Regions from separate parts of the Homo sapiens genome. Here region 2 is linked to region 1. The links come from fine-mapping of genetic effects on gene expression. A gene starts in region 1. The other region holds a variant in brackets. All regions are shown on one strand. Distances are between the middles of the regions.

The links. PIP is the estimated chance that this variant, and not a neighbour inherited with it, causes the effect. A credible set is the group of variants that fine-mapping cannot tell apart.
Region 2: its variant is the best candidate, but not a certain one, in a credible set for the expression of PLA2G4E in nasal epithelium (TOPMed, PIP 0.88).

What each region holds. Positions count from the first base shown.
Region 1 is chr15:42,013,073-42,028,747 of GRCh38, reverse strand. It overlaps PLA2G4E (phospholipase A2 group IVE), which reads left to right and starts at 7,706. Exons shown (of 20, transcript NM_001395548.1): 1 at 7,706-7,813; 2 at 14,991-15,063. The coding sequence starts at 7,718. RefSeq lists a silencer at 14,951-15,129.
Region 2 is chr15:42,128,186-42,143,860 of GRCh38, reverse strand. It overlaps PLA2G4F (phospholipase A2 group IVF), which reads left to right. Exons shown (of 20, transcript NM_213600.4): 19 at 1,147-1,333; 20 at 1,657-4,827. The coding sequence ends at 1,877. Among named protein-coding and RNA genes, the nearest start is that of PLA2G4F, 21 kb to the left of the region's middle. The variant C/T (reference allele first, on the strand shown) is at 5,188.

The sequences.
Region 1 (15,675 bases):
AACATAGGCACATAGAAGAAGCCTTTTAAAAAGAGAGTACAGGCTGGGCACGGTGGCTCATGCCTATAATCCCAGCACTTTGGGAGGCCGAGGTGGGCAGATCACCTGAGGTCAGGAGTTTGACACCAGCCTGGCCCACATGGTGAAACTCCTTCTCTACAAAAAATACAAAAATTAGCCCAGTGTGGTGGCTCACTCCTGTAATCCCAGCTACTCAGAAGGCTGAGGCAGGAAAATTGCTTGAAGCCAGGAGGTGGAGGTTGCAGTGAGCCGAGATTACACCACTGCACTCCAGCCTGGGCAACAGAGTGAGACTCCGTCTCAAAAAATAATAAATAAATAAATAAATAAATAAATAAATAAGTAAATAAATAAATAAAATAAAAACGCAGTACAGAATCTCAGTTTTCCAGGTCAGCAGCTTTCTACCTGGGATCATAGTGGTTAAATCCAAACTAGCTAGTGTCACAGCTCTGTCACTTACCATCGTGACCTTGAGCAAGGTTCTTATCCTCTCTGTGTTTCAATTCTGCTTCTTTAAAATGAGATAATAATAGTATCTGCTTGGCAGGCAATATAAAATACTTAGACCAGTCCCTGCTACTTTGTAAACATTCAATAAATGAGAGCCACTTTGCTCCTGTTGACATCTGTGTAACGTGTGTGAATGTGTCGTAACTAATTTAGCCATTCCTTTACTGATGGGCATTAGGTATTTCCAGCTGATGAACAAGACAGGCAATGTCCATGTCCTGAAAAGGGTTACAGTCTGGTGGAAAAAGGCAAAAAGAATAAGAAAACAAGATTAGTGAGCATATGATGAATTATGTTAATAGAGCAACACAGAAGCAAGTAGGTAGATGAGAGGTGGAGGGTGGCCCAGGAGGGCTGCCACAGAAAATGGCATTTGAGCAGGGCTGTGATGGATGAGATAGAGCAGCTATAAACAGAGTGCGGTCAAGGACTTCAGGCCAAATTCCCAACATGGGAAGGAGCCTGGGCATGAAGGACCAGTGTAGCTGGAGCTTGGGTGTGAAGGGAAAAGTAGGACAAACGTGAGCAGCCCGACCACACAGACCTTCAGAGAAGGTCTGAAGTCAGCCGCCAGAAGTGAGGGGCAGGCTTGAATCCGGCCAGTCACGTAATCTCGCTTATGTTTTCAGGAGATCACTTTTGCTCTTCTGTAGAGAGTGGCTTATAGGAAGGCAAAAGTAGAAGCAGGGAGATCCGTTAGGCAATATAGGAGTTAAGTGGAGATAATGGCTTAGACAAGAGCAGTGGCAGCAACATCTGGGAAAAAGCTGGAGGGAAAAAAATATCTCACCTGAGGTGCAGAGGACTCCAAGACATGGCCCAATATCCTCACTGGTCCCTGGGGGGCCCCTTCCAGCTTTCTTGATTGATTGCTGTTTCCCTATACCCACAAAACTTTCCCCATCCCCTCCCAGCAGAAAGGCAATCATTTTACTGTGTTCAATGCATATTTTATTTGAATATATTCCCTAGCCATATTGAAGTTGTTGTAGATGTCCTTGATAGATTTACCAGTGTTTCCTGCCTCTTCCTGTCAACACTGATTGTCCCAGACCCATCATGTTGTTCTGCGTGCGTCTCGTGTGTTGCTTTGAATGACTGCAGCAGGTTGCACATCCTTCACTCCCCATTCATGCTTCCAGCCATGCTCTCACATGGGCTGGTTCCACATTTCTCATACTGTAAGTGATGTGGAGTGAATGCCCTCATACACATCTTTCTTTCTTTCTTTTTTTTTTTTTGAGATAGAGTCTTGCTCTGTCGCCCAGGTTGGAGGGCAGTGGTGTGATCTCAGCTCACTGCAATCTCTGTCTCCTGGGTTCAAGCGGTTCTTTTACCTCAGCCTCCTGAGTAGCTGGGATTCTAGGCACCCACCACCACGCCCAGCTAATTTTTGTATTTTTAGTAGAGATGGAGTTTCACCATGTTGGCCAGGCTGGTCTCGAACTCCTGACCTCAAATGATCCTCCCACCTCGGCCTCTCACAGTACTGGAATTACAGGCATGAGCTACCACACCCGACCCTCATACATATCTTTCTATATCCAAATCAGAATTGCTGTCTGATATTCTTACTTTGACTAAGTGACGACAGAGTGTCCTCACTGACCTGATAGCCTCCTCTTCCACAGCAGAGCACGATGGTGACTCTATTCCCATATTCCCACCAACACTTGCCATTATCCAACTTTCTCAATTTTTTCCAATTTAGTAGCTGTAGTAAAATCTCATTTTCATTTTTATTTGCATTTCTGATGAATTTGCATTTCCTGGCTTTTCCCTGTGTTAATTTTTTACAGCCTGCCTTTTTATATGGTATGAAATGGGAATGCTGTTTTCTTTTACTCTATATAGTAAGTCACTTTTGCCATGTCACCCATTAAACAGTTTATTCTTTTCCCATTGACTTGTGGTGCCAATTTTATCATATATTAAGTTCCCTTGAAAAGCAGGGGTCTGTCTCTGTTCCCTCCATTTTGTTCCCATAATATACTGTTTGTATTAGTATGGCTTTGTAATTTATCTTAGTACCTGGTAGGGCAAGACTCTCCTCTATATCTTTTTTTTTAAAGTGATTTTGTTATGCATGAATATTTATTAAGAGGGGAAACGTGAGATCTATTGTAGAGGTGGAACTCTGCTTATGGCATCTTTTGCTTTACCGAAGTTTAAAATTTCTGTGTATTCAAAACTGACAATATTTCCCTATTTGCTTCTAGGTTTTATACCTTGTTTAGGAAGATCCTCCTCCACCTAACATTATATAAATGTACTCTCACATTTCATTTTAAATTATATATAGTTTTATTTTAATGGTTAGATATTTAAGCTATCTGGAATTTATTTTGTGAAGTTAATTTCATTTTATTCCAAATGGTAAGCTAGCTTTTCCAATAATGAATGGTCCATCCTTTCTGACAGAGCAGGAGCACCGTCATCTCAGACAAACACCACCACTCTAAGTTCCAGCTCCCTTTCTAGCCTCATGCATTTCAAGGAAATCACTTCTCTTCTAACTACAAGCAGCCAGAAAGAGCAGGCAGTAAAACACAGATAAGATAGCTTGGGTACAGAGGGAGGTAGGGGGAACGTCTCTTGGAACTGCCAAACTTCGCCTGCATACAATGGGTCCCAGTAAAACATTGGGCCTTAATAAGCACATTCCTTTCCCTTCAGGTGCACTAAGATAGGGAAGCTAAAAGCAGACTCCAGTGGGGGGTGGGGGGAGGTATGCCTGCAGCTACAGGAAGATGTATGGGAACAGACACACAACTCTCCCTCCCAGATAAGCACAACAAAGAGACACAGAAGCAGTCCAAGCCTCTGATAAACTCTCCCACTCTGAATCCTTAAAAACTCTTAGTCTGTAAGAGAGTATGCCTCTGACCTAACTTGGCCAGAAGCCCCTCTCAGGTTTGTTTTCCCTTAAGTAAACCTGTCTTACTGGCGAGTCACCTTTCATGTTTCTTTCCTCTTTCTTTCTTTTCTTTTCTTTTCCTTTTTTTTTTTTTCTTTTTTGAGACAGAGTTTCACTCTGTCTCCCAGGCTGGAGTGCAGTGGTGCAATCTTGGCTCACTGCAAGCTCCGCCTCCCGGATTCATGCCATTCTCCTGCCTCAGCCTCCTGAGTAGCTGGGACTACAGGTGCCCGCGACCATGCCCGGCTAATTTTTTGTGTAGTGGAGATGGGGTTTCACTGTGTTAGCCAGGATGGTCTCGATCTCCTGACCTCGTGATCCACCCACCTCAGCCTCCCAAAGTGCTGGGATTACAGGCGTGAGCCACCGCGCCTGGCTCCTCTTTAATTCTTACAGTTTCACGACTGATTTCACATACTTCCTTTATTGTATGCTAAAATTCCGTATATACGTAGAGCTGCTCCTGGGTCCTACCTGGTTTATGGAAGGTATTGGAATCCAGAGTTTGTTGGCAAAGACTGGAAAAGCGTTAGGTGCTTTTCAGCAGAAGAACGAGAGGTTGAAGGGAGTGTTTCTAAAGCTCACAAGCTGTAGGAGGCAGAGAGGAGGCTGGAGACAGGTGCTGCTGGCAGGAGGTGGGAAGGAAGGGACAGGGCCCTGAACCACCTGGAAAGCGGACAGTGAGGAGTCATCCTTGCTGGGCCCACAGGGGAGTGGCATCCACTGGGCTTCTGGGAGGAATGTGCTTTTCAATATTGGGTTACCTGAGGCCAAGAGTCTGCTGGCAGAGGCAGTGCCTGGTCACCCCATCTGAAGTGTCAGGTAACAAGCCTGGCGACAGGCCTGGAGTCGGAGGCCTCAGCGCACACAGCAGCAAGGCTGGGCCCAAGTAGCCCAGGGGATCTGAGGATCCTGGGGCTCCCTGGTCATCAGTGCTGGGTGGAAAGGAACTGTTCCCTCCCCTTGCTGCAGAGACAAGTTCAGAATTTCCACACAGAAGGAACTCTACCAAAAGAGCACTTGACTTGGAGCAGCAGTTGTGTACCAAGATTGCTGCTTTGGCACCCGCACCCTGGCGTGGGGATGTCACTGTTTGCCTGACACTCCTTACTCACTGTCCCAGTCCACTTCCAACTCCCCGAGTCCTCTGCTCTGCTCCCCTCCCATCCCACTTAGAGCCCACACTGGCCAATTTACCATTTAATTTTACCCCCTTTCCTCCCCTTTCTAGATTTTACATTCTTGGTTGTTTTATTCCAGACCCCACCTGAGTGGTCAGCACAGAGATGGGCACCCAGCAGGCAGTCGGTAAATACTTTCCAGTAGATCAGTCCACTTAGTTCAAGGTCACACTGGCTCCCACCTGGGACAGAGGCACCACAGAGGATGTGGGGGAAGAAACTTCCACCAAGCTCCCATCAGCCCCCTATTCAATTTGATTTAATTCAACTAAAATGAGTTGAGACCCTGCTCTGAGGAGTTGATAGACAGTGAGGAAACATACGAGTTGGAGTGGGGGTTTGTGGCTGGGCTTCTTCAGTGAGAAGAGGCCAAATAGGAGGCCTTGAGGAATGCCCTGGTGTTTGGGGCTCAACCTGGCCTATCTGATTGGGAAGGGTGGGGGAGTGGGAGGGATGGGGAGACAGATGGGACCCCATGACTTTCAGGACAGTATAGTGCTGTGGGTTGAGTTGCCACAGAAACTCCTGGACTTAGCTTGTATGGCCTGTTCTGGCCTTATCTCTCCCTTAACTTTCCACCCTACTTCCCCTATCCCAGATGGTTCACATCTCACCTCCTAATTGATCCCTTGTTTCAACATCAATCATCCTTGCCTTCTTAAAGTTCAGCTCTCCTGCTCAAAAACCATCAATAGCCCCCTACTGCTTAGAGACTACGTCCAAATATAAAGTATGGCCTTTTAGGGTCATGATTATTTGGACCCTAATCTAGTATGGAATGAAGGGTGACCTCTGAACACAGGGCAGACTGGGTCCAAATGCAGGGCCAGAACCAAGTTGGTGGTATCTGTGGGACCTCTTCATGTGCCTGGCCCTCCAGAGAGCAGAGGGGCCTTACCTGGGTGTTTTCCAGATTTGTTCTTTCACAAAGCCTCCTTCTTTCTGCCCAATTTCTACCACCCCTGTGTTCCACTCTCTACCCCCAGTATCTCTTCCCACACAACTCACTGCACAGACACCAGACCACCTGCATACATAAGCGTGCCCTGCTTTCTGGCCTCCCTGCCTGTGTTCATGCTGTTTCTTCCTCCTAGGATGCCTCTCTCTTCCTCCTAGTGGTGCCTAGGCTCACTAGCTGTTGAAATCCCATTCCTCGTCTAAAGCCCAATTCAGATGCCACCTCCTCTGTAAGGCCTTTTCAGATCCATTCTTTCCCTCTCCAGCTGGAATCCATTTTCCATCTTCTGTGTTCCCTAGCCAGTTCTTAGTTGTGTGGCAGAGCTCTGTAAACCAGGGGCCCCCAACCCCCTGGCCACAGACCAGTACCAGTCCGTGGCCTGTTTGGAACCAGGCCACACAGCAGGTGGTGAACAGTGGGCGAGTGAGTGAAGCTTCATCTGTATTTAGAGCCACTCCCCATCACTTGTATTACCACCTGAAACCCACCTCCTGTCAGATCAGCAGTGGCATTAGATTCTCATAGGAGCACAAACCCTATTGTTAACTGTATACTCGAGGGATCTAGGTTGCACATTCCTTATGAAAATCTAATGCCTGATGATCTGTCACTCTCTCCCATAACCCCCAGATGGAACCATCTAGTTGCAGGAAAACAAGCTCAGGGTTCCCACTGATTCTACATTATGGTGAATTGTATAATTATTTCATTATATATGACAATATGATAATAATAGAAATAAAGTGCACAATAAATGTAAGGCACTTGTATCATCCCAAAACCATCTCCCGCCCACCCGCGGAAAAATTAACCTCGGTGAAACCAGTCCCTGGCACTAAAAAAGGATGGGGACTACTGCTGTAAACCATGGATCTTCACAAATGTGAAGGAAGGATTGTTATCGATCCTTCTAAGATGCCCCCTCTCACCACAGGGAAACTTGGATCCCTGAGCCTCTGAGGGGTTGGATGCATCTGGCTCTCCAGCCAGACTGTCAGCAACTTCAAGCTTAGGATTTCCTCTCTCAGTAGGATGTATACAGCAGATGCTTACTAGGTACATGAACTAAATTGAATTTGTGGAGTTTACTGAGGGATGTGGTGCTGAGTCCCCATCCTTGGCAGAGGAGGGGAGGGCAGGGCAAGGAAGGAAGCCAGGAGAGCAGCAGGCTAAGGCCCCTCCACTTTCTGGAAGGCCAGGCACGTGAAGAGTTCCCACAGGTACCTCCAACCAGGTTCCATCCCTGCATTCAGGCCCAGTCTGTCCCATGTTCAGATCTCATCCTCAATTTCAAAAAAGCACTTCTATCTATGGTCCAGAAAAGCCGGTTGTGGGGCCCCAGGCAATAGCTCAGGCAGGAAACTCCCAGTGTACAGAGTCAGGCAGCAGAACAGGCAAAGCTGCCCTTGTCAGGCCCCTCAGTGAGCCACCAGGCTAGAGATAGGAATCATCTGGGCGGGGCGGGTGCATCCTCCAAGCTGTCCTGAGACCAGGCAGGGGCTGGACACGCCCTCTCTCCACCTGGCCTCCCAGGAGGGAGGACAGGGGATGGTTGCCCCAGACCCTTTCTCACGAAGTATTGGGCAATTATTTTCTTTCTTCACCCTCTAGCTTTGGGAGCACTGACCCTGGTCTCTTTGGGAGTTGTGGCCAGGGACCCCATGAAGGTCCCTGGCCACAGCTCCTGGGGTACCAAGCCATGAAACTGAAGTGGAGTTGGGAGCGACGGTCGCATCCTCCTAGAGGGGCATCTATGAGCCATGACCTCTATAAGCTGAAGAGATAGAGCTTTCCCAAATTATGGCGGGCTAGTCCTACAGTCATGTGGGTCCAGTGTCCTCTTCTTGCCACCCACTGTGCCCTTGAAGGCCTGGTCATTCTGAGTGGCTGGGGGCTACAGACTGCTGACCCCAAAGACCAGAGCCCTGCGGGTCCCTGTATTTCTATGACCTGAAGACCTGTGATTTCTTTGATATGAAGAGATCTAGGCCCATGCACCCTATCTGTCTACCCACTCAAACCACTCCCAGAGCAATCCCAGCTACTGCCAAGCTGTGGCCAGGAAGGTGGAGCTCTGAGTCAGAGTATAAGTTCCTGATCTTGCCACCCAGCTGGAGAGCTGCCGTGATGCTCCTGAGGCAGATGCACGCCAGGGTCTCCCACTCCCTGCCAGACCCATGCCAAGCAGAAGACAGCAGGCCCTCGGCCACCTGTGCCTTGAAGGTGAGGGAGGGGTGCTCAGTGGCTGGGGCCAGAGGCTGAGGGCCAGGGAGGCATGGCCAGGAAGTGAGGGGCAGGGGCAGGGAGCTGAGAGCAGGAGACGGGCCTCAGGGAGGGCTGGTAGGCATTGGACATCCCAAGGACCTGGGCTCAGGCAGCCTCATCTTAAAACCTGGGGGAGGTGGTTTATCCCAGTTGGGGCCAGGGCTCCTGCTTGGGTGGCCCTGCTGAGAGTACCCTCAAGATTTTCAAGGCATCATGAAGTGGCGTGGGGCCATCCTGGGGCCAGGCTAGCACCCAAGATAGAGAGTATGCCAGGGGGATCCACATTTGGCCTGCCCTAATGGCAAGCAGGATTTAACCCTGCAAACATCCTAAGCTTCTATGCTGTGCAAGAGTATGGTGTAGTGTATGGTGAGAATTGGTGGCATTGTCAATCTGTTGCCATCAGCCACAAAGCTGCCCACCTGGGTTTACAGTCAAGGCTCATGGGTCCATCCAACTCCTCACAGCCTCACAGGGAGACCTCTGGGTTCATGGATCAGGTTGCCAGGGCTCTAGACCAACTCTGCCTCAGTTTCCCCATCTAGGCAATAGGGAGATGACCTCAATGCTTCAATCTGCTGTAGGCTCACCTTGGGAAGAATCATTAGTTGGTTCCTCGAAGGCAGCACTTCTTCCTCATTACCTTTCCCAGGGCCACCTCCCCGGCTCAAGTTAAATCATTGAATGACATGGGTGATGCCCTGAAAGTACTTTGCCCCTTGGTGGGGGAGATGAAGACCCTGTTCAGTCTCCTAGGAGCCCAAGTCAGGGAGCTCCGTGGTGGGTGGTGGCCAATGCCCCTGCTGCCCAGCCAGGTAGACACTGCCTCCTGGGGTGTGCCCTGGTTTCCCCACAGCACTTGGGTGGCTGGAAGGGCGTCTGGCCACCTATTGTTCCTGCCAATCTTTTTGAGCCTCCAAGAGCTTGGGCCAGGAGAGGTCTTCCACAGAGGTGACAGAGTTTACCTCAAAGGGGGCAGTGAAGCAGTTAAGAGCCCGGGACCCCAAATGTGGCTTCAGGAGCCTCTCCATGAGCTGCATCTGCCCCTGTCAGGCCTGGAGGGTCCATGTTGGTGCCGGGATTTCTTGCCCTGACCACTCAACTAGCCTGGTGATAAAAAGGAAAACAGCCATGGTAGCTCCTCCCAGGTGACTCTTAGTCTGGGATGTTGCTCAGAGTGGCTGGGACATGTATTAGGGTCCCATCATGTCCCCTCCCAATGGTCTCCTTAAAGGAGGGCCCACATGTTCTGGAAGACAGCACCTGGCTAGTCCAAGCTCTGACACAGGTGTTGCATGGAACTGAAGGGTACACCCAGCTCTCTAGGGAGGAGGAGGTGGCATCACCTGCCTGGCCTGACCTGAGAAGCCCTGGGGAGGGAGTTCCTGCAGGCTCCCCAGGTGCCATCTTCCCCTCTCTCCAGGCTCCCCAGACTTCATGGGATGGTTTGCTGAGGGTATGTCTGGCCCAGCGATGGGCATCGGATCCACCACCTCTGAAATGTGGTTGTCAGACCCTTCCCCAGACCCCACTCCCACCCAGGAGCCTGACCCTGGGAGCCCTTTGGTAATTAAGTATTCTTTTGACTGATTTGTGGTAACGGCTAGATTCTTGGGGTATAGGGAGAGCTCCAATGAGGAGGCTGAGGCTTTTCCTCCTGTCTCTGCTACTGACTAGTCCAGCACATGGCCTGGAGCAAGCTGCTAGCTGGTGCTGTACATTCATAGTGAGAGCCAGGTGGATGGAGTGCATGCGCCCTGAAGACCTGCACCCAAGTCCTGGCTCTGCCACTCCTGGGCAGTGTAAGCCTGTTTGAGATGTAATCTCTCTAAACGCGGCCTTCCCCTCTGTAAAGCAGGGATAATGATGCCTTCCTTGGCGGTGGTTGGAAGGTTAGATAAGAGCATATGCACAGCAGCTAGAGCACAGCCCAGCTGGGCCTGCCAGAGCAGAGTCATACATTTTGTTCCCCACCCTCACCCCTGCCAAAAGTCATATCTATAAAAGTAGGAGTGGGAAGGGGCAGCATTGGATTGCATCATAGCCAATCCTGAGATTCAAGGGGCTGCCTCTTTTCCACATGAGCTGGCAAGGTCCCCCAGTCCCCAGTAGGTCCCCAGGGGGCAGTGGAGTCCTGCCAAGATCAACCCCAGAATCCAGGCTGGGGAGGGGGCTGGGACGGTGTGTCGGCAGCCTGAGCAGTGGGGCCCTCTCTCTCCCCTGGCTTCCCAGAAAACTGCTGTCCAGCCTGTCCTCCCTGGCCCAGCTGTACTGATTGGCAAAGTGGCTAAATATACCTCTGTACTGTTTGCCAAACAGTTCCTGCCTTGAGCTCCAAGTCTTCAAGTGCTCCCTGGTCCTTACCCCAGGGCCCTCCCAATGCCCTCATGAAGGATGAATGCCTGTCCCTACTCCAGGGCTGCAGCCCAGCTGGCATGGTGCCTGATCATGTCTGTTCTTAAATAGTTTGACTCTTCACCCTGATACCCAATCCCAGCCAGGGCATCCTGTTCTAGGGATGAGCTTATCTGAGTCCTTAAAGCTTTGGCCCTCACCACACCATAAGCAACCCTGTAAACTTGGGTTCCACAGCCTCCCTGGTTTCTGGTTCCCACACGCACATCAGAGACACGGTGCTTTGCTCGATTGCATCTTTCCACTGTAGATTAATTACCTCCAGGCCATGAATTTTTGCTCATCTCTAGCAACACTGATCAAACAGATTATATCAGAAGCAAAATAGGTACATTCATTGCAACCCAAGAAGGCCATTTCTCATAGACCTGGTTCCTGGAATGCATCTGGTCCCCAGAGCTAAGTCCCATATTCCTGCCACCTTCCTCCCAGCATGATCCGGCTGGGATGTCTCTCAAACCCCCTTCCCAGTCCCAATTCTGTGCTGGCAAAATGTGGTTGTCTCCTGAAAACTGGGTCTCTCCTGAAAATTCGAGAGCTGGAGGGTGTGATCTAAGGCTCAAGTGGAGCAATCTGTGGCTACTGGAAAATGGGAACTTCTCCAAAGACCCTTATGGCTCTGATGTGCTCTAGATGTTTAAAAAGAGAGGGATATCCTAGAATGTGTTGGTAGAAACAGCCAGTAAGAGTGCAGGCCATAGAAGAATTGTCAGAGTTTGGTGGTTATTTTTTGGCTTTGGGGGAGCGCTGAGTGAAAAGAAGAATCTGTCAGAAAAACTGTTTTAAAGAGAAGAAAAGCAAGGAAGAGGAGATGAAGGCAAGCAACATTTGTCTTCCTGTTTGCCAAGTAAACTGAGATTCTCAGTGGGAGAAACACAGGCTTGGGAAGTAGCATTGGATGTCTCTGATTCTAGCTGTGAGCCCTGTGTCAAAGGACTTAGCCTCTGACTCTCCATCTATAAAGACGAAGCTAATAATAACTGCTTCGTGGGGCGGTTGTAAGGATTAAGCAAGATAATATACAGAGAACCTGTACATGGCACCTGCGCATGGCTGGCACGCAGCAGATGCTAGCTGTTATTGTTGCTGAGTTAGAGCGGGAAGAAATGGTCACCTGCATTGGAAGGCACTGAGGTTAGATGATGGGAGTGAACTTGTCCTGGAAGGCAGGACACCTGGAGTGAGGTCCCAAGGGAGAGTGTGGCTGCGCCTTCCCTGCCAGAGTAGATATTGAAGGAGGCAGGCTGGGCCACAGGCACCCCCTCCTGGAGGCAGGAGAAGGATTGTGAGGCCGAGAGGACCACCGGACCTGGGTTCAGAGCCCTGAAACACTGTGGAATATCCCTCAGGACGGACTCCTGCCTGGGCTGAAGCCTCCACAGCTTGGACTCTAGTTGCCCTCTGAGAAAGTGGGCCGGTGGGTACAGGTTTTGCCAAAACTGCTTGCCTGGTGAAAGTTGACCCTGCCTCCTCACCAGGCCAGCCCAGGGTGCATGCTGCACTCGGGCAGAGTGAGAAAGGAGGAGTGCACCTTGGAGGTCTGGCCAGAGGCCACAGCTGTGTCTCCAGCATCAGAAGAGAAGCAGTGTGCATGGCTTTTGGCCCAAGTCTCCGGCTCCCAACAGAATGCTGTTAGAGCAAGTTATTGACCATGAGATGTTCAATATTTCAGGGTTGATCTCACAAAATAAATCTCCAGACCTATAATTGGCTGTGAGTTTGACTTTTGTCCTGGTTTTAAGGCAGCTGTTCAGGAGAGGAGAAGAGACCTTAAAAGGGGCTAAATAACGTGACCTTCCCAGAATCAGCATTCTGTTGCTGATCAGAATTAAGCCCCAGGGGCCAGGCACAGTGGCTCAAACCTATAAACCCAGCACTTTGGGAGGCTGAGGTAGGCAGAATCACCTGAGACCAGGAGTTTGAGACCAGCCTGGCCAACACGGTGAAACTGCGTCTCTACTAAAAATACAAAAATTAGCCGGGCGTGGTCGTGAGCACCTGTAGTCCAGCTACTCAGGAGACTGAGGAGGGAGAATTGCTTGAACCTGGGAGGCAGAGGTTGCAGTGAGCCAAGATATCCCGCCACTGCATTCCAGCCTATATGACAGAGTGAGGCTCCGTCTCCAAAGAAAAAAGAATTAAGCCCCAGGAAAGTCTGAAAGGACCAGCATCAAAAGATTCCCTAGCCAAGGCAACAGAGTGAGACCCTGTCTCAAAAAAAAAAAAAAAAAAAAAAGTAAAGATAAAAAGATGGTCTCTGAGTGGTGGGATTATAGAAACTTTTTTTTTCTTCGTATCTTGTTTCTCCTGCCCCCAATCCCAATAGTATTTAAAGAGAGAAGAATTGAATCCTCTTAAAAAGGTATAAAGTGATTCTGGCAACACGGAGTAGAACATTCAGGGTCGCATGTCGAGGGTGCCGGTTCAGACGCTTCTATAAATACAGACATTCGGTTGGTAGGCATTTACCGTGAGCTCAGGCTGGGAATGGACGACAACAAAAACTCTTCTAAGCGTGGGTAAAACTCTCAGCGAAGGGGCTTCAAGTCATGAGTTCCAACAGGAAAGGCATGAACCAAGAACAGAACCAGGACACCTGAAGAGAACCCGTGCGAGGCTGCCCCTTCCCGGGTGTGCCGGCTCAGAGTAGAAACGCGCCTCACCTCTGCAGCCTTGGGCCCCTAGGGACCAGAAGAGGTTTCCAGAGTCCAGGAGCATGACTGATGGCGGGGAAGCTTCTGGAGCCAGCCAGAGGCCCCAAGCCTGGAAAGCAACAGCCTGTAGCCAGCTTGACCTGCTCTCCCCATCAAAGCCACTGGCCGCTGTTGCCTTTAACCTCTGTCTCTGCCTAGTATTCACCCCTGGCCCCCCAGCATCTAGCATAGGGCCTGGCACACAGTAGGTGCTCAAAAATAATACTCTAGAAGATGGTTCATTCATTCAGAGGAACAATCAGAGGGCTGGCACTCTCAGAGCAACAGAGGCAGGGAGCCCTACCAGCGAGCACACAGACCCTGAGCTCTGAAAACAGCCCATGGAAGAGACGCTGGCCAGGAGAGGGGTGAAACGGGAGCGGCTCCCACAGGCTTAACGCCTGGGGCCAAGGGCAACAGGCAGAGGGGCACTGGGAGAGCGCTGCGGTCCCTCGGTAGGCAGGAAGGATGATCCGGCGACACTCTGTTGCTGTAGGGTCCAGAGAAGCTGGTGCGGCTGGAAGAGGGGGTTTCAGGGCCTCTGGGAGGCAGAAAGTAATGAAGTAATGGGTCCAAAAGGGATAAAGTAGAGTAGTGGCTGCTGCGAGACTCAGAGTGCAGGGGCAGCTCGGGAGGGACGTGGGGCCTTAAGGAACCACAGCCACTGCCCCAGACACTGCAGCCCAGGGAGGGCTCTGGGTGTTCCTTGAGGACCTGGGCTTGAGATGATGGCAGAGCCCCCAGGAGGTGATCAGAACTAGAAGAGGGGCAGGACGGAAGGAGGAGCCATCAGCACCGCGTGAGCAGGGCTGGGAGTGTTCCCACACCCCAGTTGTTAGGACAAGGTGCTAGGGAAGGGGGACACCTCAGGGCTCTGGTCCCCTGGGGTTATCATGACCCGCAGAGGCATCTGACAGGAGCCAGTCATCAAACCAAGGACTACTTGAGCTTTTGCCATCAGGAAAGAGAGGTCATCGCAGACCAGCCAAGACTCCACAAGGACCTCTTGCGAGAAACAGTGGAGTGGAGAGAGGCAGACTGTTTCCTGGGAAGGGAAAATAGAGTGACCAGAAGGACCTGGGGGAGATACCCTGGGGAAGAGGCCCAAAGGGCAAGGGAGATGCAAAGGCCTGGGCTGGAGCTAAGTAAGTACCAGTGGGGGTGAGCCCCTGGCACATGGTCTCCCAGTGAGTAGATGTCACCGTGCGTGATCAGTGTCTGTCACCCCCCTTCCCGCAGCCACACTGTGCCTGCCTCCCAAGCAGGCTGCCATCTTGCCTGGGCAAGAGCAAATATCTGCATGTGGGACAGTAGGAGGAGAGTGCCAATAAGCAGCTATTCAGTGAAGAAAGGAGAGGGAGAACACCTCAGGACTCCCTTGCCATGGGCGTTCATTCTGTGCATGGGGCTGGAACATTCATTCACTCACTTAATGAACATGTATTAGCACCTTCTAGATATGAGCATGCTATAGGTACTGGAGGTACAAAGATGAAAAACCAGTCAGGGTCCCAGGCTCTCTGGAGCTTCCAGGACCTTCCAGGCTGAAGAGCAGACAGAAACCCCAGCAAACAATGACAAAACAGCATGGGGAGCCAGGCGTGGTGGCTCATGCCTGTAATCCCAGCACTTTGGGAGGCCGAGGTGGGTGGATCACCTGACATAAGGAGTTCAAGACCAGCCTGGACAACGTGGTGAAACCCTGTCTCAACTAAAACTACAAAAATTTAGCTGGGTATGTGGCAGACACCTGTAACCCCAGCTACATGGGAGGCTGAGGCAGGAGAATCACTAGAACCTGGGAGGCAGAGGTTGCAGTGAGCCGAGATCGCGCCATGGCACTCTAGCCTGGGCAACAAGAGTGAAACTCTGTAAAAAAAAAAAAAAAAAAAAAAAAAAAAACCAGCCTAGGGGTTGTTGTAATGCAACTGGGCCGGCCTGAGGAGGCATAGCGGGAAAGTCTCCCCCGGGGCAATGGCCTTGGAGTAATGCTTGAAGACTGAGTCCTCTGTCCTCTCCTTCCACAGGAGGGGCTGTCTCCATGCCACCTGTTGACAGTGAGGGTCATCCGGATGAAAAATGTCCGGCAGGCTGATATGCGTGAGTATCCACCTCACTTCTCTCCTTCTCTGCTTACCGGATCTGGATGGAAGAGGCCCTGGCTGGAGAAATGGTCAGGTGGATCCGTGTGTGTGTGTGCGCGCGCACGTGTGCACGTGCATGGTGTATACGTGTATGTGTGTGCATGTATGTGCACGAATGTGTGTTCTATACTCAAGTTGTAGTTCAGACTTTGGGGTTTCTGTCACTCTTCCAGGCCCCTTGTTCATGCTGTTCCCTCGGCGCTACCTGCCCCGCAGTCTGTGCCTGCACCCAAGAGCTCTGTTCGCCCTCTGTCTCCTCCCCACTCTCTCTTCCTGGAATCGATTTCCAAGAGCACCCGCTTTGCCCACACGGAGCACTCCTTGCTCCTCCTTTCGGTTAGGGCCTGTTGGGGTGAAGTGGAAGGAGAGGCACTTAGGCATCGTGGAGCCAGCTGCCAGGTGACTCCCAGAGCCCCTTCTCAAGACAAAGATCTGAAACTGGGCTCTGGGGACCATGCCAGAGTCCACAGCACCCAGTTCTACAGTTCAGCCCATGGATGTGGCTTGACTTAGCAGCACTGTTTGTGCAGTGCTGTTTCCTGGCAGCCCTAACCTCCCCCCTCATCCC
Region 2 (15,675 bases), 120 kb before region 1:
GCCCTTTGTGGACGGCCTGGGTTCCACTCTGTGTGTGAGGGAGCTGCCTTCTGAACGCTGTTGGCAGCACAGGTCTCCCAGTTGCAGGAGAGTTGCTGAGATTATGGTGGGCGTGGGAAGAGGAGGCCAAAGAGGGTCCCCAGGAATCTTCTAGCCTCATCCATAGAAGATCCCCCAGTTCTAGACTCTGCCCATTCATGACAGATTTCCCCACTCCAGCTTGGACCTGAGTCTGTGGCCCCTTTGTTACCATGGTAACAACAGAGCCATGAGGGTCCCCTCTGATGCAGAAGCCCTGCAGCAAGTCCCTCCATCTCTGCTGGGTGGTGGACGGATGCCCCCATTCCCATGTGGGTGCTGGTGGTGCTGCTGGAGCAGCCCTTCCTTTGGTCTCCTCTTTGTCCTGGGTCCAGTGAGAGCCTGGGATTGACTGGGGATTGATGAAGCCTCTTCTGACGTGGACCTTCTGTGATTGTCGCATGTCAACCTTGTGAAACTGACATCAGCTTCTAATAGGGAGCAGAGAGGGGTGAGAGAAGGGAAGACCATGGTGGTTCCTGGAGGACCATGGCGGAATGCTGTTGAGGCAGTGGATGATTGATTGTTGATCATTACTGATTATTGTTAATCTTCACAACACCACTGGATGGGGAGCTTTTTTTTTTTTTTTTTTTTTTTTTTTTTAGATGGAGTCTCACTCTGTCACCAGGCTGGAGTGCAGTGGTGCAATCTTGGCTCGCTGCAACCTCTGCCTCCTAGGTTCAAATGATTCTCCTGCCTCAGCCTCCCGAGTAGCTGGGACTATAGGCACACACCACCATGCCCAGCTAATTTTTGTAATTTTAGTAGAGACGGGGTTTCACCATGTTGGCCAGGGTGGTCTTGATCTCTTGACCTCATGATCTGCCAGCCTCGGCCTCCCAAAGTGCTGGGATTACAGGCATGAGCCACCATGCCCGGCCGGAAGTTTAAAAATTTTTTATTTTACACATGAGAAACCAGCTCAGAAAGGAGCTGTCACCTGCCTGAAGTCACTCAGCTAGTCAGAAACAGAGCTGGCATTGAAGCCTGGGCGTGTGTGAGTCCAGGGCGGCGGGAGTGGCCAGGGTGGAGGAAAGGCAGAGTCAGAGGCTTGCTCCTGCTCAGGTCTTGAAGATGACAGAGAAGTACTGCCTGGACCGAGGAATCCCCTTCCCTAGCATCGAGGTGGGCCCTGAGGACATGGAGGAGGCCCGTGAGTGCTATCTGTTTGCCAAGGCTGAGGACCCCCGCTCCCCCATTGTGCTGCACTTCCCCCTGGTTAACCGTACCTTCCGCACACACCTGGCCCCAGGTAAGGGAAGCTCCAGGCCTGGGACTGACCCACAGAGCCCTGGGATGGTGATGGGACGCTGTTCTGAGGGTGGGTTCCCTGGAGAATGTCACTAAGCACGCCTCCTGGTGGGCCTGAGCTGGCCCCTGTGGCCCTCTGCTCCCTGGGTCTCAGCGTTCAGATGGGGCCAGCCCCTCCTGGGGGGTCTGAGAGCTGAGATGTGGCCCAAGCAGGGCCCGCAGGGAGCCAGCCAGGTGTCCTGCACAAGGAAGACTTCTGGGCTGTTCCAGCCAGTTCCACAGAGGGCTCCATCCTGGCCTCTCCTCTGCTTCCCCCACCCACAGGTGTGGAGCGACAAACAGCTGAGGAGAAGGCCTTTGGGGACTTTGTCATCAACAGGCCAGACACCCCCTATGGCATGATGAACTTCACCTATGAGCCCCAGGACTTTTATCGGCTGGTGGCCCTCAGTCGATACAACGTCCTGAACAACGTGGAGACCTTGAAGTGCGCCCTCCAGCTGGCTCTGGACCGGCACCAGGCTCGGGAGAGGGCAGGGGCCTGACCAAGGCAGGAAGCGGAGGACTGTGACAGAGAGGAGACACACTGCTCATGGTCAGGGCTTGTAGAGGGAGGAGCGATGGGGACTCTGTGCAGGATCTGCTTCCCTTCTCTCCAGGACCTGCCTCGAGGTGCCCCAGGCCCCGGAAAGCTCTTGCAGAATTGCAGCTTGGACTGGGGCAGGGCTCTCCTTGTGTGTTTTTGGAGAAGATGGGCAGTAGATCGCTCCAGGGACTCTTGGGGATGTAGGGCAGAAGAGAACAGCACTCATTTCACAGCGGGGTGTGGAGAGAATCAGGTGAGCCACAGAGCCCACCCCAGACACAGAAGGACCTCAGAGGGCCCAAGTCCTCAGACCCACACAGAACAGGGGCTGAGGGCACTGAGAAGCCAGCTGTCCTCCTTACACTGAGATGGAAAGCAGAGATGCATCCATCCACACTTCCTGCAGAGCGGCCCAAGCCCCAACCCCACCTCGAGCTCCTGGATGCACTGCTATCAAGAACAATGAGGGGCTGAGGGGATGGCCAGCCTATGTTGCTGACTCCATCATCCTAACCCTCCTTCTGCCTTCTGGTCTCCTCGTGCCTCCTCCCAGATCACCCTTCTCTTCCCAGCGCCCTAAAGCCTGTGGGGTGATGTCCCATTCTGGCTGCTCCAGGTGGGAGATGTGCGCGTGTCTCCCTGCCAGTTACCCAGGCTTCACTCTTCGAACCTGGACCACAGTCTCTGGTGATGTGTGTAGTGGCCACATCATGCAAATATAGTCTCACCATTCCTAGGAGCTAAATGGGTGTGTCTAGTAGGGGCATCAGTTCATCGGGGGAGAGGTGTGCACCTGTATGTGGGGCAGGAGGGTGTGCAAGTTCCTGGAGGTGGGTTACTCCAAGGCATGGGCAGTGCAGAGGGAGCCTCGCCTGGGCTCTTGCCTCTTTCCCAGATGCATCCAATGGGTCTTGGCAAGTTTTGTTTCTCACTCTCCCTCTTCTCCATTTCCCCTGACCCGCCAGGGACTCTCCAAATACCTAGAACCTCTCTAGTGTGGGCAGCCCTCAGATTCGTGAAGAGGAGATCCCGTTCTGGCCAGGCCCTCTCCATCTGGCCACGGCCTCTGCAGCATATGCCTCCAGTGCTGAGCTGCCTAGGAGCCTGCAGCAGCACTTGAGACCTTGTTCCTTCTGCCCCCTGTCCCAGGGGCTCCCTCTTGGCTGCACCCCCTGCTCCATGCTCTCTCACACAGACACGCTGTCAGGAACACCTGTGCTGGGAAGCCTTACCTGTCCTGAGTCTGGAAAGAAGACTAGTTCTGGTTTCCAGGTTGGGGAAGGGTGACTGGAGCCCAGCCTGTGTCTTGGCCTGGCCTGGGATCTGCAGCCCTCCAGCTGGCATGAGTTGCGAGGGCTGGGGGAGCCAGTTATTTGGGCTGGCATGGGGTGGGGACACCTCAGTTCTCCTCTGCCTCCTCACCATGGCTGCCTGTCACAGGCCACGGCCCCTCCCCTTGGTTCAGCAGTGAGAGGTTTATCTGGGAGTTTATCTGGCTCCTGCTGTGGCCATTGTCATCAACACTGCTGTGCCTGCCGTCATCAATAACTTGTTAGTAAAACCTTCATAGGGTTCACAGCTCAGAACTGCACAGCGTTCACAACTTAGAATCTGTGGTGTTTCTTCAGTGCCCATTAGAGCCTCAGGCTGTCTCTGGCTCCTAGAAAGTCATTCTACCATCTGTTTTGTTCACTGCTGTATCCTCAGTGCCTAGAGCAGCAGTTGATACATGGTAGGTGCTCAGTAAATATTTGATAAATGAATGGGAACCTACATTCTAAGAAATGGATCGTCACCCACCAACCACAAAAAAGCATGCAATGCTTTCATGATTCCTAACCCATGTGGACTTTTTGAAGAGCTGATATAAACCACAGACCCTCTCCCAAGAAAAAGGCATACACACACACATGAAAAGTTGCTTACAATAAGGTCTCTGCTTCAGCTATGTGATCAGCAGCCCCAGGGTTGCAGAGGCCAGCGTCTGTCCCCGCAGGCCAGCAAGGCTTGTGAAGGAGGCAAACGTGGGCTTGTGCAGAGTGGGCGGGGACCTTCTCACACAGAAGTGTAGGCAATGCCACTTGTGCTCAGATAAGGTTTGGGAGGAGACTGGGACAAGATCAAGGGCAGGGGGCAGGGGGCAGGAGGCTGGGCTAGTGCTGTGGCCCAGATATTGGCCAGAAGTACAGGGAGGATCTCAGCCAGGGATGGGGAGGCTCCAACAAGACTGAATCTGGGAGCCACGCAGAGCAAGAAGCCAGGGGAGGGGCCGAAGGTAACCCAGCCAGTTTAATGTCTGCTCCTCAGGAGAGATCTGAGTCTTTACCTCATTCCCAACCCTTATCTGAGATGGCTGGAAATAAGCTTCAGGGTCCTGAAGGTGACAGAGTTGGAGGGATTTGTCTAGAAGAGCAAGCATGGTTTCCCTTGAAGCTGGGTAGAAACACAGGAGCAGGGACATCATTCATCAACTTGTCAGAGCTCCTCATGAGGCAAGGGAAGAAAAAGGGGGCCACAAGTGTAGGAGATTGGTCAGAGTGGTGGGAGAAGCTATAGGGAAAGGAGCAGGCCTTCTGAAAGGTTGGAAGGCTCTGCATAGCTTTGGAGGAGAATAGCTAAAGACAGCTGTTCTATAACCCTGAGGCAGAGGGCAAGGAGTAGGTACGAGGGAGTGTGGGGGAATTTATCTTAAACAGGCTTGTTTACTTCTGTTGACCAGGAACTGACCTTTGATCATCTACGCCCATGACCTTCCCTGAAAGGGGAACAATAAATGTTAATTACCTCCAGTGTTTGCTCCAGGCTTTTGGCATTGTGCCTGCACTGAATAAAAGCAAGCAGCTCCAGCTTCTCAGGGCTGCACTTTGGCCACTTGAGCTGGGCAGTCCCCTAGCTGCTCTTACACTGCATACCTGTGTCTGAGTACACATTTCATCCACTGCTCAGCCAGGGTCGCTCCTCAGTGAGGAGGTATCTGAGTCCTTACCTCATTTCCAACTCTTGTCTGAGATGGCTGGAAATAAGCTTCAAGGTCCTGAAGGTGACAGAGTTGGAGGGATTTGTCCAGAAGAACAAGCATGGTTTCCCTTGAAGCTGGGTAGAAACACAGGAGCAGGGGCATCATTCATCAGCTTGTCAGAGCCCCTCATGAGAGAAAAAGGGGGCCACAAGCCTGTCACATAGGGCTGCACAGGTTGTGCACTGCACAACTTCAGGGGATCCTGTTCACATGAACTGATGGTGTGAATTTGTCTCTTGGAGTTGTGTGA[C/T]CTAGCAGCCCTGGGAGCACAGCCTCAACTGAGTATGAGGACAGAGGCTGGTTCAAATATCAGGCCCCCTGGTTCCTTCGATGCAGCTCGGCATTCACAAGAATCTCCTGCAGAAAATCGAAGAGCAAGTATCCTTTCCATTCCTTGGATGGTGCAGCACTGGGAGAAGGGCCTCAGGTACTGGCAGGTGGCTGGTGGGCATGGGTAACCCCCGCCTTCTCTGAGCCCAGGCCATGCAGCTAACATTGCTCAGTTGGTGGTGGTAATCAGCTGAGGCTTTAAATGAAATTTCCTTCATTTCAGATGAAACCATTCTTGCAGAGGAGAAAAGCAGGGCACACTGCATACCCTGCAGGAATCTATCTTTCCCTAGCACCTCTGTCCTGTAAAACTCCACAGGGACACCCAACAAACGGGGCAAGGAGTCCTGGAATTTTCTCCATGAAGGACAGGGGTCTGTAGGGGGCTGTCCTGGGAGTCAGGGAGGCTGTTAACCACTAGAGGTCAGGGCTGGGGACTGATTTTTTTTTCCTATTAGGAAAGCTGAGGCACAGGAAATATTAAGCGGTGAATGACTCACTATGTTAAAAAGCCAGTTACTTTAGTAAGATTTAGGTCTTGGTTTTGAAAAAGATGTACAGTTGCTTTTCGACTTACAATGAGGTTACATCTCAACCCATTGGAAAGTCAAAAAACTGTAAGTCAAACCATTCAGTTGGGGACCATCTGGATAAATATGTAATAAAGGCCACTGTTTTAAAAGTCTACCAACACTAGGTGGCGAGCTTTGGCAAAGTAAGTGGTAAAAGGAGGCGAAGTTGGAGAAAGAGGAAAAGACAAAGGGGAGGAAAATATGAGTAAGGAAGAGAAGGGATGGGGAGCTACCCAGAAGGGGGGCCACCCGGGTGGGGAGAGGCAGGCAGGTGCTCTTGAGAGAGGCTCTGGCTGATTTGCTGGCATTCACAAGTCCTCGTGGCTCTTTATCCTTTGACCCCAGAGTGATGGATCTCACCTGGGTTGCACCTTGAATTCACCTGGGGAGCTTTAAATGCCTGATGCCTGCCCTGGCTCTGCTTGGTCTACTGCGGGGCATCTTTGTCATCCCACCACCCCCACTGGGCTCCTCTGGACCATGGTGGCTGAGGCTTCCACAGGAGGGTCCAGGTGGCCCTTGCTTGTGCATCGTCTAGTTCGGGTTGGTACCGTTGAAGCCCCTTCTTGCTTTTCCTTCCTCCCTCTGGCCTCAGCGCTTCTGCTGTCCTTGTCCTCCTGTCCTCTCTTCGGGTCCCTGAACACTGCCAGAATTTCCTGGAGGCACCTTAAGTCCTCTAAGGGCCTATAGATTTTCAGTTCCATCTTGGGTACCAGGAAACACTGTGCCATGCCCCAGGTCTCCTTTCACTCCCCACCCCAACCTCTCCATTTATTTTACCATCGCTGGGTTTCAAAGCAAGTCCTGGGGCTTGAGACACACTTGTTTTCTGTTTGCCATGCTTCGTCTTTCTCCCCCGCCTTCCTGCTTTCTGGTTTGATTTTTTTCTTTTCCCCTCTGCTGGTTTGAATGTTATGCATCCTATTTCCACCATTCTGGTGGTTCCTCTTGTCAATTTCATTGACGTATCATTTATATGCAATAGCACACATTCTAAGTGTACAGTAAGTGTACAAGAGAGTAAGTGCACAGTTCAATGAATTCTGATTTATATACATGTGTAACTACCACCACAGTCACGATATGGAACATTTCCATCACCCAAAATGTTATCTTGCGTTCCGTCCCAGTCAGTTTCCCCACTCCTGGCCCCAGGTGACTACTGATCGGCTTTCTCCCACAATGGATTTGTCTTTTCCAGAGTTTCATACAAATGGAATGGTATAGTCGAAAAATTATTACCTTGAACCACTTAAAATTTTTTTGACTTACAATTCGTTGACTTTTTGACTCATTGTGTCCAGCTTCTCTCACTCAACACGTTTTGCGTTTGCGAGTCATCCCTGTTGCTGTGTCTGTAGTTCTTTCCTTAGTATAACTCACTAGGATGTATGTAGATATCCCACAATGTTTATCCATTCCCCTGCTGATGGAAATTTGGTTTATTTCCAAATTTAGCTTCATTAAAAGTCTTCTTACGGCCAGGTGCGGTGGCTCACGCCTGTAATCCCAGCACTTTGGGAGGCCGAGGCGGGTGGATCACGAGGTCAGGAGATCGAGACCACCCTGGCTAACACACTGAAACCCCGTCTCTACTAAAAATACAAAAAATTAGCCAGGCGTGGTCGTGGGCGCCTGTAGTCCCAGCTACTCAGGAGGCTGAGCCAGGAGAATGGCGTGAACCATGGAGACAGATCTTGCGGTGAGCTGAGATCGCGCCACTGCACTCCAGCCTGGGTGACAGAGCGAGACTCTGTCTCCGAAAAAAAAAAAGTCTTCTTACTTAAACATTCATTCATTCATGCATTCATTCAGAGACAGTCTCACTCTGTCGCCCAGGCTGGAATGCAGTGGCATGATCTTTCCTCACTGCAACCTCTGCCTCCCGCATTCAAGCGATTCTTCTGCCTCAGCCTCCCGAGTAGCTGGGACTACAGGTGTGTACCACCATGCCTGGCTAATTTTCGTATTTTTAATAGAGACAGGTTTCACCATGTTGGCCAGGCTGGTCTTGAACTCCTGACCTCAAGTGATGCACCCACCTCTGCCTCCCAAAGTGCTGGGATTACAGGCATGAGCCACCACACCCAGCCTAAACTTTTATTTTTTTAAAGTCCCATTAAAAAGTCCACCAGTCTCTATTGTCTCTCCCCAAACAAGACAAGCATCCTGGCATGCTTGTAGCTTCCTGTTTCCTGCCCTATGTGCCGCTCCCCAACCACCCAAACATTCTACTAATCACCTGGAATCTTATTTCCAGTGTATTAAAAACTGCAAAATAGAAATTTTTATTTCCACTTTACAATATAGTTTCTTGATTTAGTTGCTTGTCATTGCTTCTTGTAACTCCTTTCTTTCTTTTGCGTTTGCTTTTCTTTTTAGTGGAGTGCAAAATTGAATATTTAATGAAGGGTGTGTGGATGGTAAATATTCTGACTGCTTATATGTCTAGAATTCTCTTTTCTTGCCCTGACTTATGAGTAATAGCCTGGAAGAGTATAGAATTCTTGGTTCATGCTTGCATATGCTCAGATGTTAATGCCTTCTTGCATTTGATATTGCTGATATGCAATCTGATGGCAGCTGGAGTCCCCATTGCAGGTCATTTGTCTGTAACTTTTAGGACTTTGTCTTTTATTTTATTTATTTATTGTTTTCTGAAATGAGGTCTCACTCTGTCACCCAGGCTGGAGTACAGTGGCAGATGATGGCTCACTGCAGCCTCAACCTCCTAAGCTCAAGCGATCCTCCCACCTCAGCCTCCCAAGAAGCTGGGCCCACAGGCATGTGCCACCATTCCTGGCTATTTTTATTTTTATTTTTAATTTTGTAGAGACGGGGTCTCCCTATGTTGCTCAGGCTGGTGTCCAACTCCTGGGCTCAAACAATCCTCTGACCTCGGCCTTACAAAGTGATAGGATTACAGGTGTGAGTCACCATACCCGGCCTGTCTTTGATTTTTAAAGTTTAACTTTGGCCAGGCTCTATGGCTCGCATCTGTAATCCCAACACTTTGGGAAGCCAGGCAGGAGGATCACTTGAAGCCAGGAGTTAAAGACAAACCTGGTCAACAAAGCAAGACTTCATCTCTATAAAAAATTAGCTAAGCATGATGGTGCACACCTTAGTTCCAGCTATTTGGGAGGCTGAGGCAAGAGAACTGCTTGAGCCCAGAAGGAGTTCGAGGCTGCAGTGAGCCACGATTGCATCACTGCACTCCAGCCTGGGTGACAGAGCAAAACTCTGTCTCAAAAAAAAATAATAAAATCAAAAAGTTTAATTTTGATTTTTCTAAAGTGTAAAGGTAAAAAATTATCAGTGAGCTCTTTCAACTTCTGGATGTATGTCTTTTTGAAGCTCTAAGAAATTACCTGTCAATTTTATCACAACTGCTGTTCATCCTCCCTTTCTGGAATTCATATTAACTGGATGTAGGAATATCTGAATCAACGCTGTGTATCCCTAAACTTTCCTCTTATGCATTCTATCTTTTCATTGTGCTGTATTCCGGGGGATTTTCTTAGCATGATTTTCCAGATCATGAACACAATCTTCTGTGTCCAGTCCGCTCCTGGATTCATCTTTTGGGGTTTCTGTTTAACTTGACTATCACATTTTTCATTTTAAGTTCTCTAAGCGGATCTTTTCCAAAACTACGTGTTTTCATTTCCTGAATAGGCTTCACTCCTTTCACTGTGATGATGTTAGCGTATGTATTTTAACACGTTTTTCTGATTGTTCTGTGACTGGATTCCTTGGGGGTAGGTTCTTTGTTGCCTCTCTTTCATGGATGCTGCCTTCTTTATGTATTTGGTGACTGTTGGTTGTAACCTCATCTCTGAGAGAGTTCCTTGCATGCCCTGGGCTGTGATGGCTCCTGGCTGCGTGTCCTTGGCCATGCCGTGGTAATGATGGCTGGCCTGCAGGTGGCAGTGTGGGACTTGGGGCTGGGGAGGCTGAAGCTATGCTGCTGGGGGACTCACACAGCCTTGAAGGGATGCTGCAGCCCCTGGGTAACAGTAGCAGCCTTGGCATGGAGGGCCGGGTAGCGTGCCAGTGTGTTCCATTGGGCTGCCCGTTTACCTCCTTCATTCAGGGCTGCCTCTGCGTTTCTGACTCATGAAGAGTTCTCTTTCTTGCTTTGAATCATGGGTTATTAATTTATTAACCTATGTTTTTATCTTTTCTATTATTAATATGACGGGCTTGGTATAGGGGGTCCTCCAAACCTCATATTGAAATTTAATCCCCAGTGTTGAAGATGGGTCCTAATGGGAAGTGTTCGGTTATGGGACCAGATCCCTCAAGAATAGGTTATTGCCCTCTTTCTTGGGGGCTGGGTGAGTTCCCACTCTATTAGTTCCTCCAAGAGCTGGTTGTTAAAAAGAGCCTGGCACCTCCCCCATCTCTTGCTTTCTCTCTCACTCTGTGATCTCTGCACACAAAGGCTCCCCTTGCCCTCTGCCACGAGTGGAAGCCGTCTGAGGCCCTCACCAGAAGCAGACGCAGATGCTGGCACCATGCTCTTTGAACAGCCTGCCTTGAAGAGCCATGAGCCAAATGAACCTGTTTTCTTTATAAATTACCCAACTTCAGGTATCCTTTCATAGCAACACAAACTAACTAAGATGGGGATGAGTAAAATGTTACAAAGGAAAAGTTGTGTTTCAAGATGAAAGACAGAGAACAGGCTAAGATCACCCTCAACATTTTAAAAAAATTATTTTCAATTACACAGTAAATTTTCTGAATTTGTCTTTTTAAGAAATGATTTAAGTTAAATTAACTATTCTACATCTGAAACAATGAAGAAATTTTAGGCATGAATTGTTTTATACATTTTATTCTATTAATATTTGAGTTTTTTGATTACTCATGTATTTTTTTTCTTTTTTTGAGACGGAGTCTCACTCTGTTACCCAGGCTGGAGTGCAGTGGTGCGATCTCCGCTCACTGCAAGCTCTGCCCCCCTGGGTTCAAGTGATTTCTCCTGCCTCAGTCTCCCAAGTAGCCAGGATTACACGCACATGCCACCACACCCTGCTAATTTTTGTATTTTTAGTAGAGACGGGGTTTCACCATGTTGGCCAGGCTGGTCTTGAACTCCTGACCTCAGGTGATCCGGCCACCTTGGCCCCCCAAAGTGCTGGGATTACAGGCGTGAGCCACTGCACCTAGCCGATTACTCAGGTATTTTTCAATCCCCAAATGCACCATCAATCTGTGCTGACATCCACTCTTCCTCTTCACCAGCTGAATCAGAGGGTGGACTAATTGGACCTGACATGTGCAAGGATAAGGAGCTTTGTAACCTGAGAGCTGCCAGGGCTCCCTAAGTCTCTCAGGGACCTGCTCACGGGTTGCCGTGAAGGTGAACTGAAATAAGATGTGGAGCGTGGTAAGCACAGTGGCCGGCACACTGGGAGTCCTCAGTAGAAGTGGTTATTATTTCACACAGGGTGCTGATTGCGCTAAGCTGCCCAGGAGTGGCCTCTTGGCTGTTCCTAAGTGACTCAGTCCTCATTACTCCCCACTTTCTGCCAGGTGTATTCAGAGCAGCTTGGCTCAGACCTGGCCTTATTGCTGCCACACTGGTGGGGGTTGGGGTGGTGGTGGCCAGAGTGACCAGTCCTCTGGTCTTAACCCTCACCTAGGCCAGGGGTAGGACCCGGCCTTCTGGGACATTTCACAGGACTGGCTCCTCATCTTTGCCCATGGATCTGCCTCATCTCCCTCCCTCATCTGCTGGCCTGGGGGGAGGTGTCTACTTTTGTGTTTCCCCGTGTGCATGCCTGGCCTTTGCTTTTTCTTTTGTGAGCTGTGCCAGGGGCTCCTGGTGGTGCTGGCTGGCCTCAAAGAGCTGAGGGAAAAGCACTCGGTGTGGAGCCACCCAGAGGGTAGAGCCTGGATGCCTTCATAGATCCCTGCCTTGCTGAGATCGGGAGATTCAAGCTCCCATCCTGTGTGACTGCTGCTGCCACCACCCAGGGAGTAGGTATCTTTGTTAAGAGCTGGGCTTGGAGTAGAGCCAGAGTCAGGGTAGGAGGGGCCTGAAGCCCAGAGCTGTACTCTCATATTCCTGAATGGGAGATGCCAAGCTCCTCAGCCCCCAAGGTGGCTGGAAGGGCCTGGGCTGTTAGAATCTGCTGTGATTTGAAACATGATGTCCCCTCCAAAATTCATGTTGAAAGTTAGTTCCCAGTGCAACAGTATTAACAGATGGGGACTTTGAGAGGTGATTAGACCATGAGGCCTCCACCCTCATGAATGGGGATTAGTGATCTTACAGAAGGGATTCAGGAGGCAAGTTTGCCCTTTCTGACCCATCTGCCAAGTGAGGACACAGTGTTCTTCCTTCTGGAGGATAAAGCCATAGGATGCCACATGGGAAGCAGACAGCAGCCCTCACCACGCAACCCACTGACACCTTGAGAAATACATTTCTGTTCTGTATAAATCACCCAGGCTACAGTGTTCTATTAGAGCAGCACAAACCGAAGACAGGAGCCTTGCTGTCATTCTCCAACCACCTGCAGACTTGTATGTTTACCCCAGTGTACCACATCGATGCCTTCACTTTCCAGGAGTGCCTTCACATGGAAACAGGTGGGAAGTACAGGCTTAAGGGACTGCCAGCCCATCCTCAGCCATACATTTTTGGATCACTTGCTATGATCAACAGCTACAAGGCTACACACTTCATACAAACCCCCTTCTCTGTCCTCACCACACTGACAAGAGGCTCCCCAGATGCACCTGCAGGGTTCACACTTAGTAGAAGCCCGCTGTTGATCCAGGCTTTGGTGCCTCCTCATTGCCCCTGCTCCTGATCTGTGTCTTCCTCTGAGTGAGAGCTGTTGCAGGCAGGCTGCCTTCTCAAGTCTCCCTTGGGGTCCCATATCCTGGCTACAGAGGGGGCCTACATGTCACCAGGGTCACTATCCTGGGTTTCTCATCTTATTTCCCAGACTGAACCTGGCTACTGAAGTCTTGACCTTGGGCATCTAGACCTGAGCTGGGTCTAGACAAGCAGTTCCCGACTGGAGCTCTCAGAGGAGGCTTGCTGTGGGAACCAGCTGACCCTGGGGAATTGGAAATGAGAGGCATTTGGGGCCCCAGGGGTAGAGATTGCCTTTCATTGAGTGCCGTTACAGCCAGGGATTTGCCACCACAGCCTGTGTCATCCTGAGCTTCTAGTGTTTCCTGCTAGGTGTCCCAGAGGACTTTATCCATTAGCAGATGGAAGTGCCCTACTATAGGCTGGAGGAGCTCAAGGCTGCAGGAATGGGGTAGGTGGGCAAAAGAGCAGCTAGGGAGCAGCCTGGGCGTCCAGGACTGTTCTGGAACCTGCTCACTGGGGGGTCTGAGGCATGGAGGAAGCTACTTCCTTATGGTGCAGGGCTCTCAGCTCTGTCTGTAGTTCCACGGCCCTTCTCCGATGCTCCCCATCCCAAACCTTCTTACTACCAATGGGTCCTAGTTTACCAACCAGAGAGGGGGTCAGCAATCTGAGGCTGCTCTTCCTGCAGAGGATCCCAAGTCACAGTCATCCTAGAGGCTCCTTCCCTGGCGCCCTTTATCACAAGCCTAGTGAGTGGCTTCTGCAGAGCTGGTGAAGCCACTGGGGGATTCCTTCCTGGTGAGTTCAGCACGAGTGGAAATAGAGTTGCAGGGAGCCCTGGGAGAAGGTTGAGCTAAGCTGGAAGGGACGTCAGAGGCTAGCTAGGTCAAGTCTCTCATTTTAGGATGAAGAGTAATGTCCCCTTTCATTTCTGATGTTGCTCGCTTGTGTTTTCTCTCTGCTTGATCAGTCTAGCGAAGAGATTTCTCAATTTTATTAAATATTCAAGAAGAGCTAACTTTTGCTTTTGTTTATTCATTATTTTCCCATTTTCTATTTAAATAAATTTTGTTCTTTTTTACTTCCTTCTAATTACTTTGAGTTTAATTTGCTCTTTGTCTAGCTTCTTAAGACAGAAGCTGACCATTTCAACTCAGTGGTTTCCTTTCTTAAAAAGCAGCTTTATTGATGTATAATTGACGTACAAAGAACTGCACATGTTTAATATGTAAAATTTGATGAGTTTGGACGTAGGCAAACACCTGTGATACTATCACCACAATCAAGTCAACACAGTCAACACCTAAAAAAGTTCCTGGTGTTCTTTTGTTTTTGTTTCTGCTTTGTTTTGTTTTTGTTTCCGCTTTGTTTTATTTTTGTTTCTGCTTTGTTTTGTCTTTGTGGTAAGAACACTTAAGGTGAGATCTGCCCTCTAACAAATTCTGAATTCTACAATACCATGTTGTTAACTGTAATACTATGTTGTACAGCAGATCTCCAGAACTTAATTGTCTAGCAAAAGTGAAACTTTATACCCATTGAACAACAATTCCTCATTTCTCTCACACCTAAACTCTGGCAACTACTATGGTACTCTCTGCTTCTATGAGTCTGACTCTTAAAAAATAAATTCCATGAGTCTGACTCTAAAAAATACTGTCATAAAGACAGGCGTATAGACCAATGGAACAAAATAGAGAGCCCAGAAGTAAACATATGTATATGTGGTCAATTGATCTTTGACGAAGGTACCAAGAATATGCAATGAGACAGAGAGGAAATATAGTCTCTTCAAACAAATGTGCTGGGAAAATTGGATATCCACATGCCAAAAAAAGAGAAAATGAAAATGAAGTTAGAACACTACTTTACGCTGTACACAAAAATTAAATGAATTGAAGACTTAAATGTTAGACATGAAACTGTAAAACTCCTAAAAGAAACTATAGGGGAAATTTTCTTGACATTGGCATTGGTAATAATTTATTGGATATGACTCTAAAAGCACAGGGAACAAACCTGAAAATAGATAAATAGGACTACATCAAACCAAAAAACTTCTGCATACCAAGGAAGCAATTAACAGAATGTAAAGGCAACCTACAGAATGGGAGAAAGCATTTGTAAATCATATATCTGATAAGGGTTAATTTCTAAAATATATAAGGAAATCCTGCAACTCAATAGCAAAAAACAAAAACAACAAAAATAACCTGATTTTAAACTGAGTAAAGGACTTGAACGAAATCTCTGCAAAGAAGACATGTGAAATGGCTAACAGATATATGAAAATATGCTCAACATCATTAATTATCAGCCTGTCCCCTCCCCTCCCCTCTTCTCCCCTCCTATCTCTCCCTCTCTTCCTCTCTTCCTCCCTCCCTCCCTCCCTCTCTCTCTCCCTCCCTCTCTCTCTCCCTCTCTCCCCCCGCCGCCCCTCGACAGGGTCTTGCTCTGTCGTTCAGGCTAGAGTGCAGTGGCATGATCTTGGCTTACTGCAGCCTTGACTTCCTGAGCTAAAGTGATCCACCTCAGCCTCCTGGGTAGCTGGGACTAGAGGTGTGCGCCACCACGCCCAGCTAAATTTTTATATATATATAGAGAGAGAGAGATATAGATATTTGTGTGTGTGTGTGTGGAGATAGGGTTTCACCATGTTGTCCTGGATGGTCTCAGACTCCTGGGCTCAAGCTATCTGATGACCTTGGCCTCCCAAAATGCTAGGATTACAGGCATGAGCCACCACACCCAGCCCAGGTTATTTTCTAACATATGCATTTAGAGCTATACACTTCCTTCAAGCACTGTTTAATCTTACACCAGTCAACATGGCTATTCTTAAAAACTCAAAAAATAACAGATGATGGTGAGGTTGTGGAGAAAAGGGAATGCTTATACACTGTTGGTGGGAGTGCAAATTTATTCAGCCCCGGTGGAAAGCAGTTTGGAGATTTCTCAAAGGAGTAAAAATAGAATTACCATTTAACCCAGCAAT